Linked DNA regions of Homo sapiens: region 2 is linked to region 1. The links come from fine-mapping of genetic effects on gene expression. A gene starts in region 1. The other region holds a variant in brackets. All regions are shown on one strand. Distances are between the middles of the regions. Region 1 holds the start of C6orf132 (chromosome 6 open reading frame 132). Region 2 overlaps C6orf132 (chromosome 6 open reading frame 132).

Region 1 (5,374 bases):
TGGATCGCCTTCCTCTGCAGAGTTAATTCAGCAAACCCGCTAAGAGTGTGATCTCTGGAGCCTGACTGCCTGGATTCAAATACTAGTTCTGCCTCACAAGGGAGATTTTGGAGGTCATCGAAATGTTCTAAAACCAGATGGTGGTGATAATGGCACAACTCTGTGTAAATGGTCTACTAAAAATCATTGAATTGTGGACTTAGAAAAATGCTGCCTCCAGCATTGAAAGCTGTATGATCTTGGGCATATTACTTAACCTCCCTGTGCCTCAGTCTCCTCATCTGTCAAACAGGAATGACAATAATAGTGCCTGACTCTAGATGAGATTTCAATGAATCAGTAACACAAAGATTTTAGAATGGCATCTTGCACCTAAGAAGGGATTAATAAATGGTCTTTCCATGGTGCCTCCGTTGAGAGGGAAAGAAGTGTCCTGGCTCACAGGCACTTGCCTGCACACCTGTGTCTGGGAGTGCCTACACCATGCCTCCACTTGCCCTGCTCCTCCTGGTCTTTGCTTCTACTGTTTGTTTTGCCAGGAATGCCCTCTCCTGTCAGCTCGAATGCTAGTTCCACTCAGAGGTCATCTCTCTTCTTTGCTTTTATGCTTAATAATCATTTACAGCAAAGGCTCAGAAAGGGCTAAATGGCATATGGTTAGTTCTGTTCACCCCCTGATCTGATATCTTTGTGCCAGGAAGAGGCGACACTTTGTCCGTCCTGCTCCTATCCATGGTGCCTTGTGTCCTGGCTGTGGCAACCTGCATGCTGAACTGAGTCCAACAGCAGGCACCAAGGCTATGACATCCACTGTGGGTCCCAGCACAGTGGCTATAAAGATCAGTGAAGATAATATGGTGAGAATGAAGGCAGGCAAGCTAAAGCAGTGATGGGTGACCTTCCTTGGGCCCAGAAGCCCCCTGCCCCCCCAACCTGGGCGTTCCAGAGCCACATGTCATACACAAGAAATGGATTTCTGTCTCCAGCCGCTGGCTTCCCCTAGTTATAGAGAATACAAATTGCAAAACGATGCAATGATAAGATGACCCACAGCCAGAGCCTGGGGATGAGCCAAGGCGGTGCTTTTAGAGGCCTGCAGAGACACACCAGTCTGATTCCAGGGTCAGCGGCAGCTGGCAGTCAGGGAGAGGGTTCCTTGGCCTCCACTGTCCCATTTCTGGCTCCTCGGTCTTAGCCCAGAGACAGCCCAGGTCCCAGGTTGAACTGGCAGGAGCCTGTGGCCCCAATAAGTGACTTGGTGTCACAAACAGGCTGGTAACCTGGTAGCAGCTGCGCCTGTTGTTTTTTCCTGGGCCTCACCTAGCCAGAGCCAAGTTTGTGAGCACCCAGATAGCAGGCCCCTCTCTGCCACGTGGGCTTGGGAAACAGGGAGTGCAAAGGGTGAGGGAGGAGTTCTTAGCCCCTTAGCCCCCAGTTCTTCAGGAACACTTTTGCTTCAGCCAGAATGGGGGTGTAGCGGTGGGGGTCGGGGGAGATATCGCAAACCTCCGGAAGCCTTTCCGCTAACAGTAACACAAGCATAGGATTCGCCAAGAGGGGGAATTAAACACCTCCGAATAAGGCCTGGGGTCAGAGGTGGGGGCGGCAAAGTTCTCCCACCTCCCCGTGGTGGTGGGGGGGGTCCCCTCGTTCCCCACACCTCTCTCACCGCACAGCCCTTCCCAGACACCCCTGTGCGGTGCCTCCTCCCCTGCCCGGCGGCTGCTCTCGGCCAGTCCGCAGGTTCCAACGTGTCCCTCCCCTCCGCGCCTCCAGGAGACAGCACCGCCGGCCCTGCCCCAGCGCCCTCCGTCCCCGCCCCAGCGCCCTCCGTCCCCGGAGTACTCACCGAAGCCCCCGGTCCCCTCCTCCGGGGCCTCCTGGGTGAAGATCCAGGGCGGATTGGTGGCGTAGAGGGAGGTGCTGGGGGTCGTGGTGTGCTTCTTCCCGAAGAGTTTGCTGAAGGTGCCCTGCACCGTCTGCTTCTTTTTCATGCTGCCGCAGCCCGCGCGGGCGCCAGGGAAGGACCTTCCCTCCCTCGCCCTGCCCTGCCCCGGACTGAACTCAGCACGGTCTCCCCAGGGGACTCTACCAGGCCATGTCCCCCGCCGTCCTCCCCGCCCGCGCACCGGGCAACAGGTGCTGCGGGCGCCGCCGCTTGCCGGGAAATGCGAGCTACCTGGCCAGGTAAAAGGCAGCCGCTTGGCCGGGCCCCGCCCCGCCGCCGCCCAGCTCCCCAGGCCGCATTCCTTCCCGCCTCCTTCTACAACAGGCCATTGTTGGCACGGCCCGGTGGGCTGGGGACCTCGCCCGGCCCACGCCCAGCCTGGGAGACGGGCCACCCCCTCCCCCAGGTTCCTCCCTGCACGCCTCCTTCACCCCACTTCCCCCTAGTCCGGGAAAGGAGGCGGGTGAGTTTCCAGCCTCTCAAGGCGATTCGTGACCAGGTCAGTATGGGTACATCGGGGACAGCTCTAGTGTCCAACACGAGGGACATGGATGGCCAAAGCGAGCACGCCACGGCATCCTATAGCCCCTCAAATATGTGGGGCGTGAGGCTTCGGGGAACATCAGGAAGTGCCTGTAAGAGAAAAGTAAGCTGGGAAAAGCAAGAAAATGACAAACTAGTATACCAATCTGATGACGAGGGTGGAAAAACATCCTCATTGACAGGGCTCCGAAGAGAATGTGGGATGACGAAATCTTGGCATTCTGTGTCTGTACATCACATTGTTTTTCTTTTTCTTTTCTTTTCTTTTCTTTTTTTTTTCCTTTGGACGGAGTCTCGCTCTGTTGCCCAGGCTGGAGTGCAGTGGCGCCATCTCGGCTCACCGAAACCTCCCGGTCTCGGATTCAAGCGATTCTCCTGCCTCAGCCTCCCGAGTAGCTGGGATTACAGGCACGCACCACCACGCCCGGCTAATTTTTGTATTTTTAGTAGAGACAGGTTTTCACCATGTTAGCCAGGCTGGTCTGGAACTCCTGACCTCGTGATCTGCCGGCTTCGGCCTCCCAAAGTGCTGGGATTACAGGCGTCGGCCACCGCGCCTGGCCCACATTCTTTTTTTTCTGTGAAGTTAAGTGAATATAATTTTTGAAAACCTAAAGTGGGTAGAGCCCACTTAGGGTTGGGTTCACTCTCCAGGGAGACAAACAGTGGTACTTTAAGGCACTTAGGGTAACATCCTAGCCAAGCCAGGGGTGGCTATCCACGGGGGAAATTTCCTCCGATGAGGAGGGGGAGAGCCTGCGTGAAGATGCTGAGAGCAGAGGTGCAGGCCAAGTGGGTGGAGTTTGATGTTTTCTGGGCAGCAGGGGGCATAGGCTGGTGCAAGTTGCCATTTCTGCTGAGCTTCCGGGGGACAGGGCCCACTGCCACATTTCCCCTCAGTTTCCCCCAGATCTTACACCAAAGGCGTTTTCCCTCAACTTTTCACTCTGAAACATTTCAAACCTTCAGAGAACTTACAAGAATTGTACAATGACCACCTGTGTACCCTTCTCCCTGGATTCACCAATTGTTAACTCATTGCTAAATTCATCCCTCTCTCTCTCTGTCTCTCTCTCTCCCGGATTCTTTTCCTTTTCATTTTGCTGAAGCTTGGAAGTTGTAGATACCGTGGCCCATTTCTTAGCCTCCCCCAGTACTTCAGCATCGATGTCTAAGAGTAGGAACATTCTCCTACATGGCCACAATACAACTGTCACACTCAGGAGATCTAACATTGCCAGGCACGGTGGCTCACGCCTGTAATCCTAGCACGTTGGGAGGCCAAGGCAGGTGGATCACTTGAGGTCAAGAGTTTGAGACCAGCCTGGCCAACATGGTGAAACTCCGTCTCTACCAAAAATATTTAAAAAATCAGCTGGGCGTGGAAGTGTGTGCCTGTAATCCCAGCTACTAGGGAGGCTGAGGCAGAAGAATCACTTGAACCCGGGAGGCAGAGGTTGCAGTGAACCAAGATCATGCCATTGCACTCCAGCCTGGGCAACAAGAGTGAAACTCCGTCTCAAAAAAATTAAAAAACAGGCCAGGTGCGGTGGCTCACGCCTGTAATCCCAGCACTTTGGGAGGCCGAGGCAGGTGGATCATGAGGTCAGGAGATCGAGACCATCCTGGCTAACACGGTGAAACCCCGTCTCTACTAAAAATACAAAAAAAAAATTAGCCAGGCGTGGTGGCGGGCACCTGCAGTCCCAGCTACTCAGGAGGCTGAGGCAGGAGAATGGTGTGAACCTGGGAGGCGGAGCTTGCAGTGAGCCGAGATCGTGCCACTACACTCCAGCCTGGGCGACAGAGCAAGACTCCGTCTCAAAAAAATAAAAAAAAAAAAAATAAATAATAATAAAAAAAACAAACAAACAAAAAAAGAATTTCACAATTATCCCCTCAAATGTCATTTTAGTTTTTTTGTTCCTTTTTTTTTTTTTTTCGAGACAGAGTCTTGCTCTGTCGCCGAGGCTGGAGTGCTGTGATGCAATCTTGGCTCACTGCCACCTCCGCCTCCCGGGCTCTAACGATTCTCCTGCCTCAGCCTCCCAAGTAGCTGGGACTACAGGTACCCGCCACAATGCCCAGCTAATTTTCATATTTTTAGTAGAGATGGGGTTTCACCATGTTGGCCAGGCTGGTCTCAAACTCCTGACCTCAAGTGATCCACCCACCTCAGCCTCCCAAAATGCTGGAATTATAGGCGTGAGCCACCTTGCCAGCCAAGTGGCTCCATTTGTTTGCAACTTCTACTATATAACTATTATTATTATTATATGTATATTTTTTAGATGGAGTCTTTCTCTGTCACCCAGGCTGGAGTGCAGTGGCGCAATCTCGGCTCACTGCAACCTCCACTTCCCAGATTCAAGTGATTCTTCTGTCTAAGCCTCCCGAGTAGCTGGGATTACAGGTGCCCACCACCATGCCCGGCTAATTTTTGTATTTTTAGTAGAGATGGGGTTTTACCATGTTGGTCATTCTGGTCTTGAACTCCGGACCTCAGGTGATCCACCGGCCTTGGCTTCCCAAAGTGCTGGGATTACAGGCATGAGCCACCGCACCCGGCCTGTAACTAATATTCTTGAGAGCCACTGTGTGCCACACGCTGGGCTGTGAAAGAGCCAGAAAAATTAAAGACATGGTTCTTGAGTCCAGGTTGTTATATAGTCTGTGGAGACAGGCAGTGACCTGTGGAGAGCTGGGCAGTGGGGAGGTAACTGAAAGGAAGGAAATGAAGGGGGGAAAGTGCAGAGCAATTTGGGGGCTGCAGGATCTGGGGAGGGTAGGCAGGAGACCTCTTCAGGGGCTGAGGATGGGGGAGCTCGGAATTATCCAGTGTGTGGGAGGTCACGGCAAGGTTGGCCAAGGTGTGGAAGGCTT
Region 2 (5,374 bases), 32 kb before region 1:
TACCACTTATTAGATGAGTGACCTTGAACACACTAATTAACCTTGCTGAGCCTCAGTTTCCTCATCTGTCAAAGGGGCATGATGTCAGTGCTCGCTTCTTACAGCTGTTGTGAGGATTAAATGAGAGAATCCATGCAAATACACAGAAAGGGCTTGTCATGGTGCCAGGCCTCCAGTAGGCATTTAATAAAATGGAACCACTTTGATTCCTACCATCTGTGCTTAACTTTTCAGACTGTGTGAGACAGGGAAGGTGGGAAAGAGATAGGAAGTCATGGGGCAGGGGCGAGAGACCTCCTCAGTGAGGAAGGCTGGGTGAGAGACCCGCAGGAGGGAGCAATTTGCACAAACTACTCCTGCTTTCTAAAGACCCTGAAACTATTAAGAACCCAGCTGTCCACTTCATAGAGAATGGAGGCAGATTCTGGACTGCAGAATAGAACAGGGGTGTGCAGAAGGAAGGTGGCCTGGACAATCTGGGTGCTAAAGAGATGCTGAGAGCCCCTGGCCCCAGCAGCGCACATCCCTCTCTTGTCCTCGGACCAGGTCCCCAGCCCCTCTCCCAGAGTCTACTTCCTTCTTAGGGGCACCCATCCTTTGCTCCCCTCCTCTCAGTCCCTAACAGTGTGGCGAACCTGGGGAGTGTGCGGCTCTGAAGGGCTCCTCCCAGCTGCCTGACTTCAAACTGAAGAAACCAAGAGTGGGGAAGGGGAAAACTAACATTCACTGAGCACCCAACTGTCAGGCAGGACTTAGGAGCTGGGGTACAGCAGCAAAAAAACCAACAAAACAAAAAACAGACAAACACTGGTCCTCCTAGGGAGCTTACGCTTGAACGGGACAATGAACATAATGTGTGAGTACATTATTATCACATTAGAGGATGAGTGCGATGGGAAAAAACACCAGCAGGGGAGGGGTGCAGCAGGTGCAATTTAAATAGGGCAGTCCGGCCGGGTGCGGTGGCTCACACCTGTAATCCGAGCACTTTAGGAGGCTGAGGCAGGTGGATCACGAGGTCAAGAGATAGAGACCATCCTGGCCAACATGGTGAAACACTGTCTCTACTAAAAATACAAAAATTAGCTGGGCATGGTGGTGTGCACCTATGGTCCCAGCTACTCAGAGGCTGAGGTGGGAGAACTGCTTGAACCCGGGAGGCAGAGGTTGCAGTGAGCTGAGATCACACCACTGCCCTCCAGCCTGGCAACAGAGCGAGACTCCATCTCAAATAAATAAATAAATAAATAAATAAAGCAGTCTGAGAAGGCCTCGCAGAGAAGGTGACATTTGAGCAAAGAAGGGAGGAGTGAGGGAGACGGCCACACAGATGCCTCGCAGAAGAGCATTCTAACCTGAGAGGTCTGCAGTGCAAAGACCCCAAGGCGGAAATGTGCCTGGGGTATTTCAGGAGCAACAGGAGATGCTGTGGCCGGGGCAGTGTGGGAGGGGAAAGCAAGCAAGCAAAGTGGCCAGACTCCGGTCAGACTCCAGCAGTCCTTGCAAGAACCTTTTCTCTGAGTGACACGGGAAGCCATTAGTGAGTTTGAAGCACCTCTGAGAGGTGTGACAGACATGACATACATCCCATCCACCACTTCATTTACTCCTCCAAACTGAACTGTTGTTCCCATCGTTCGTTGGAAGATACAGAGGTAGGAGGGGTGAAGTGTCTTGCCCAAGGGAGCAAAGTGAATATGTGGGGAGCTGGGATTCAAAGCCAGGCCCTTCTTCCACTTTATGCTGCACTTGTTCCTGCTCTGGCTTTGTCCCCTTGCCATCCTTCCCCCGCCAGAAAGGGGCCTTCACTGACCGTGGCTCTCCTCAACTCCCAGCCCCACTGCCCTAGCCCACTGCGGCCAGTAATCAAGATGACTGAGGATGGCGAGAGTGGCTGTGCCTGAGGACTCTGGCTTTGTCACCAGCTGTGAAGATGAGCAGATGCTTAGCTTTTGAACTCAGGGCCCTAGGAGGAAAGAAAGATGGACAAGCCCCAAGCCCAGGGTTCACTTACCTGTCACTTCTTTGTCTGCAAAATCATCTGGAACCGAGGGGGTGGGCACAGCCAGCCCATGGTTTTCCTGGGCATTCTGAAAGAGACCAGAAAGAAATCAGGGGACAGGGAAAGATGGACAGATAATTCTCAAACTGCTGCTCTTTGAGGCCATTTTACTGCTTGAAAATCTGCAGTGACGGTCATGGTTGCATAACCTTGTGCATATACCAAAATATAAAAGGCTGATTTTAAAAAGTGAATCTTGTGGTACAGTCAACCAATCATCACTATTTGTCATAGTTATGTTCTATAAAGTTGCAATGAACATAGTATTAGTAAATACTGACCCGTTGCTCCTAGGGGAAATACAGGGTTAGGTTCCTATGAGCCTCTGGTCACAAGATTTTTGTCAACTGATCAATACATAACCATAACCTTGTTTTAGCTGTGTTTCTGCTTAAAGACATTTTAATATATTTTGTTGGTTGGTTAACATTGAACTCATGGCCGATAGCACTATAACACATGACACTAAACAGAAAAAGACACTTGTTTTTGTATGACAGCTAAAACAAGAAGGCATAGAATCCTCTTGTTCAGCTGGGAACATGTGCATTGAGCAACTCAAAATTTTCACTGCTCTGTGCATGTCTGCAAATGACCACAGAAGCAACACAAGCATTGATTCTGGGGTTACAAATACGTTTTAGCCACTAAGCAAATTTGCAAATACAGAATCCACAAATAGGGAGGATTGACTGTATATGAATTCCATCTCGATGAAAAAGACAAAACAAACAAATAGAATCTGCATTGACTCTCCATGGAGGTCCACAGGTGAAAAGCCAAACTCCTCAGCCTGGCCTCCTGTGTGTTCTTAGTTTTCATTAGGTGTTTACAGAAAAATAAAAAGTGATGAACTTGAATTTTTTTTT[G/T]TTTTAATTGAGACAGGGTTTTATTCTGTCACCTAAGCTGGAGTGCAGTGGTGCAATCATGGCTCACTGCAGCCTCCATCTCGTGGCTCAAGCAATCTTCCCATCTGTAGCTGGGACTACAGATGTGTGCCACCATTCCTGGCTAATTTTTTTTTTTTTTTTTTTTGAGATGGAGTCTTGCTCTGTCACCCAGGCTGGAGTGTAATGGCATGATCTCTGCTCACCACAACCTCTGCCTCCTGGGTTCAAGCAATTCTCCTGCCTCAGCCTCCCGAGTAGCTGGGATTACAGGGGCGTGCACCACCATGCCCAGCTAATTTTTTGTATTTTTAGTAGAGACGGGGTTTCACCATGTTGGCCAGGCTGGTCCTGAACTCCTGACCTCGTGATCTGCCCACCTCTGCCTCCCAAAGTGCTGGGATTACAGGTGTGAGCCACCGCGCCCAGCCCTGGCTAATTTTTTGTATATGTTTTAGAGAATGTGGTTTCGTCATGTCTCCCAGGCTGGTCTTGAACTCCTGGGCTCAAGTAATCCGCCCACCTTGGCCTCCCAAAGTGTGGGGATAACAGGTATGAGCCACTGTTCCCAGCCTGAACTTGAATATTTATAGCTCTACAGATGCCCTTCTGATCGCTAAGCTTAAGAGGCTATAATATTTTTACACAGCTGTCAGTTTGTACATACTATTTTGCATTCTATTTTTTTTTTCCAAACACACATTTCCATATGTCAACAAAGTCCACACACCTGCTGTTTTGAAGAGCTGTAGAGCATTTTAGGGTAGTTTTCAAGGTCCCCAATGACCTGGCCTCATGCTTCCCAGCCAACTGTTATTTCCCACTCACCTATTACACCCATCCCACATTGTAGCTTCACCGACTCCCTCCCTGCCACCTTTTCAACCACCCCATATAGTCCGTGTTCATCCATGATGCTGGGCATTGGTCAGCTGTACCTGTCATTCCCACTCTCCATTTATAACAATAATCATAGTCATAATACTCCTTGCACTGTGCTCTAACTAAACACATTATCTCAGTCACACCACTCTGTATAGAAGAGGATGTCATCATTTACCAGATGAAGAAACTGAGGCTCAAAGACCTTTGGTAAGTTGTCTAAAGTCACACAACCAGTACTACCAAACCCAGGTCTGTGGAGCTCCCACTCCTTAGTATTTTGCCTCCCTAAAATCCCTTATCCTTCAAGGATTAGCTGAGCCCCTCTAGGATGATGGAACAGGGGTAGGGGATAAGAGCATTGGCTCTGGCTTTCCAGCCTGTCTGGATTTGAATATCAGATCTGCTACCTATTAGGTGTATGACTATGCAAGTTACTTAATCTCCCTGTGTCTCAGTTTCCCCATCTGGGAAATGGTGATAACAATACAATTACCCATAGTAGGGAAGCTGTGAGGACTAAATGATGCAATGCACAAAAAGCACTTGGGAGCCATCCCCTGTCCGCACCACACTGACCCACTGCTACCCAGAGCAACCCACAGCCAAGCTCCCAAAAGAGGGGAGACACTTGTTTGCACTCCAGATTGTCCTCTAGTTCCTTCAGTGAGATCTGGGAGCTCCTTGGAGCCCAGGGACCATGTCTTATGGTATCCCCCAAAGCTGGATGCATAGTGAGCCCAGTTGTTAGTGATGGGCTGATGGTACTAACCCTCTGGACTTAATATACAAGAAGGGCACTCAAGGTCGATGTTACAGAAATATCTATGAGACCCTGGGTTACCAAGGGCCATCTCAGAATTACTCTGGTCACTTGGGATCAGCAAACCACTCATCTTGTTCTTGAAGAATTCTGAAGCTGGAATGGCCTTGAGCCATCAACTTGTCTTTTTTTTTTCCTGCCTTTACTTGATTTGCATGGCCAACAACATACCTGTTCTCAACTTTTCTCAAACCCAGTGATTGGGAACCAGGGGCAGGTATAGGGACCCAGCCCATCAGAAGTGTGTCTCCCATGACATCCTGAGATGTGCCACACACACATGCAAATCACTGACATTCTAATAACCTCCATCAAGTACACACACTCTGATTTTGATGAGATGGAGGCCAGGCCTTCAAAAGCCAGGGTTGAGATCTCTGATTAATTTCAACATAATTGAAAAGCGGAAAGGCTGGGGACTTAGCATCAAAAGTCTTGGGTTCCATTCATGCTCAGGCTTGCCAGCAGTGTAGCCTTGGATGAGCAGTGGAGATGTGGGATGGGGACAGTGATGTTGAGCCATTGTCCAGGCTCCTCCTGTGCAATAGCCCTATACTAAGAGTGTGACCGGTGTCACCTCAAATCCCTTCACAGAGCCAGGGTGCAAACCTAGGCTTTCCACCTTACCTTTTCTACAGATCACTGAGACCCATTTTCTTCACTTAGAAAACCAAGGCAGCTGGGCATGGTGGCTCACGCCTGTAATCCCAGCACTTTGGG

What was found. PIP is the estimated chance that this variant, and not a neighbour inherited with it, causes the effect. A credible set is the group of variants that fine-mapping cannot tell apart.
Region 2: its variant is the best candidate, but not a certain one, in a credible set for the expression of C6orf132 in lung (TOPMed, PIP 0.56).

Annotation. Positions count from the first base shown.
Region 1 is chr6:42,140,451-42,145,824 of GRCh38, forward strand. C6orf132 (chromosome 6 open reading frame 132) reads right to left here and starts at 2,170. Exons shown (of 5, transcript NM_001164446.3): 1 at 1,850-2,170. The coding sequence starts at 1,994. RefSeq lists an enhancer at 745-1,424.
Region 2 is chr6:42,108,202-42,113,575 of GRCh38, forward strand. It overlaps C6orf132 (chromosome 6 open reading frame 132), which reads right to left. Exons shown (of 5, transcript NM_001164446.3): 3 at 2,015-2,090. Among named protein-coding and RNA genes, the nearest start is that of C6orf132, 32 kb to the right of the region's middle. The variant G/T (reference allele first, on the strand shown) is at 2,932.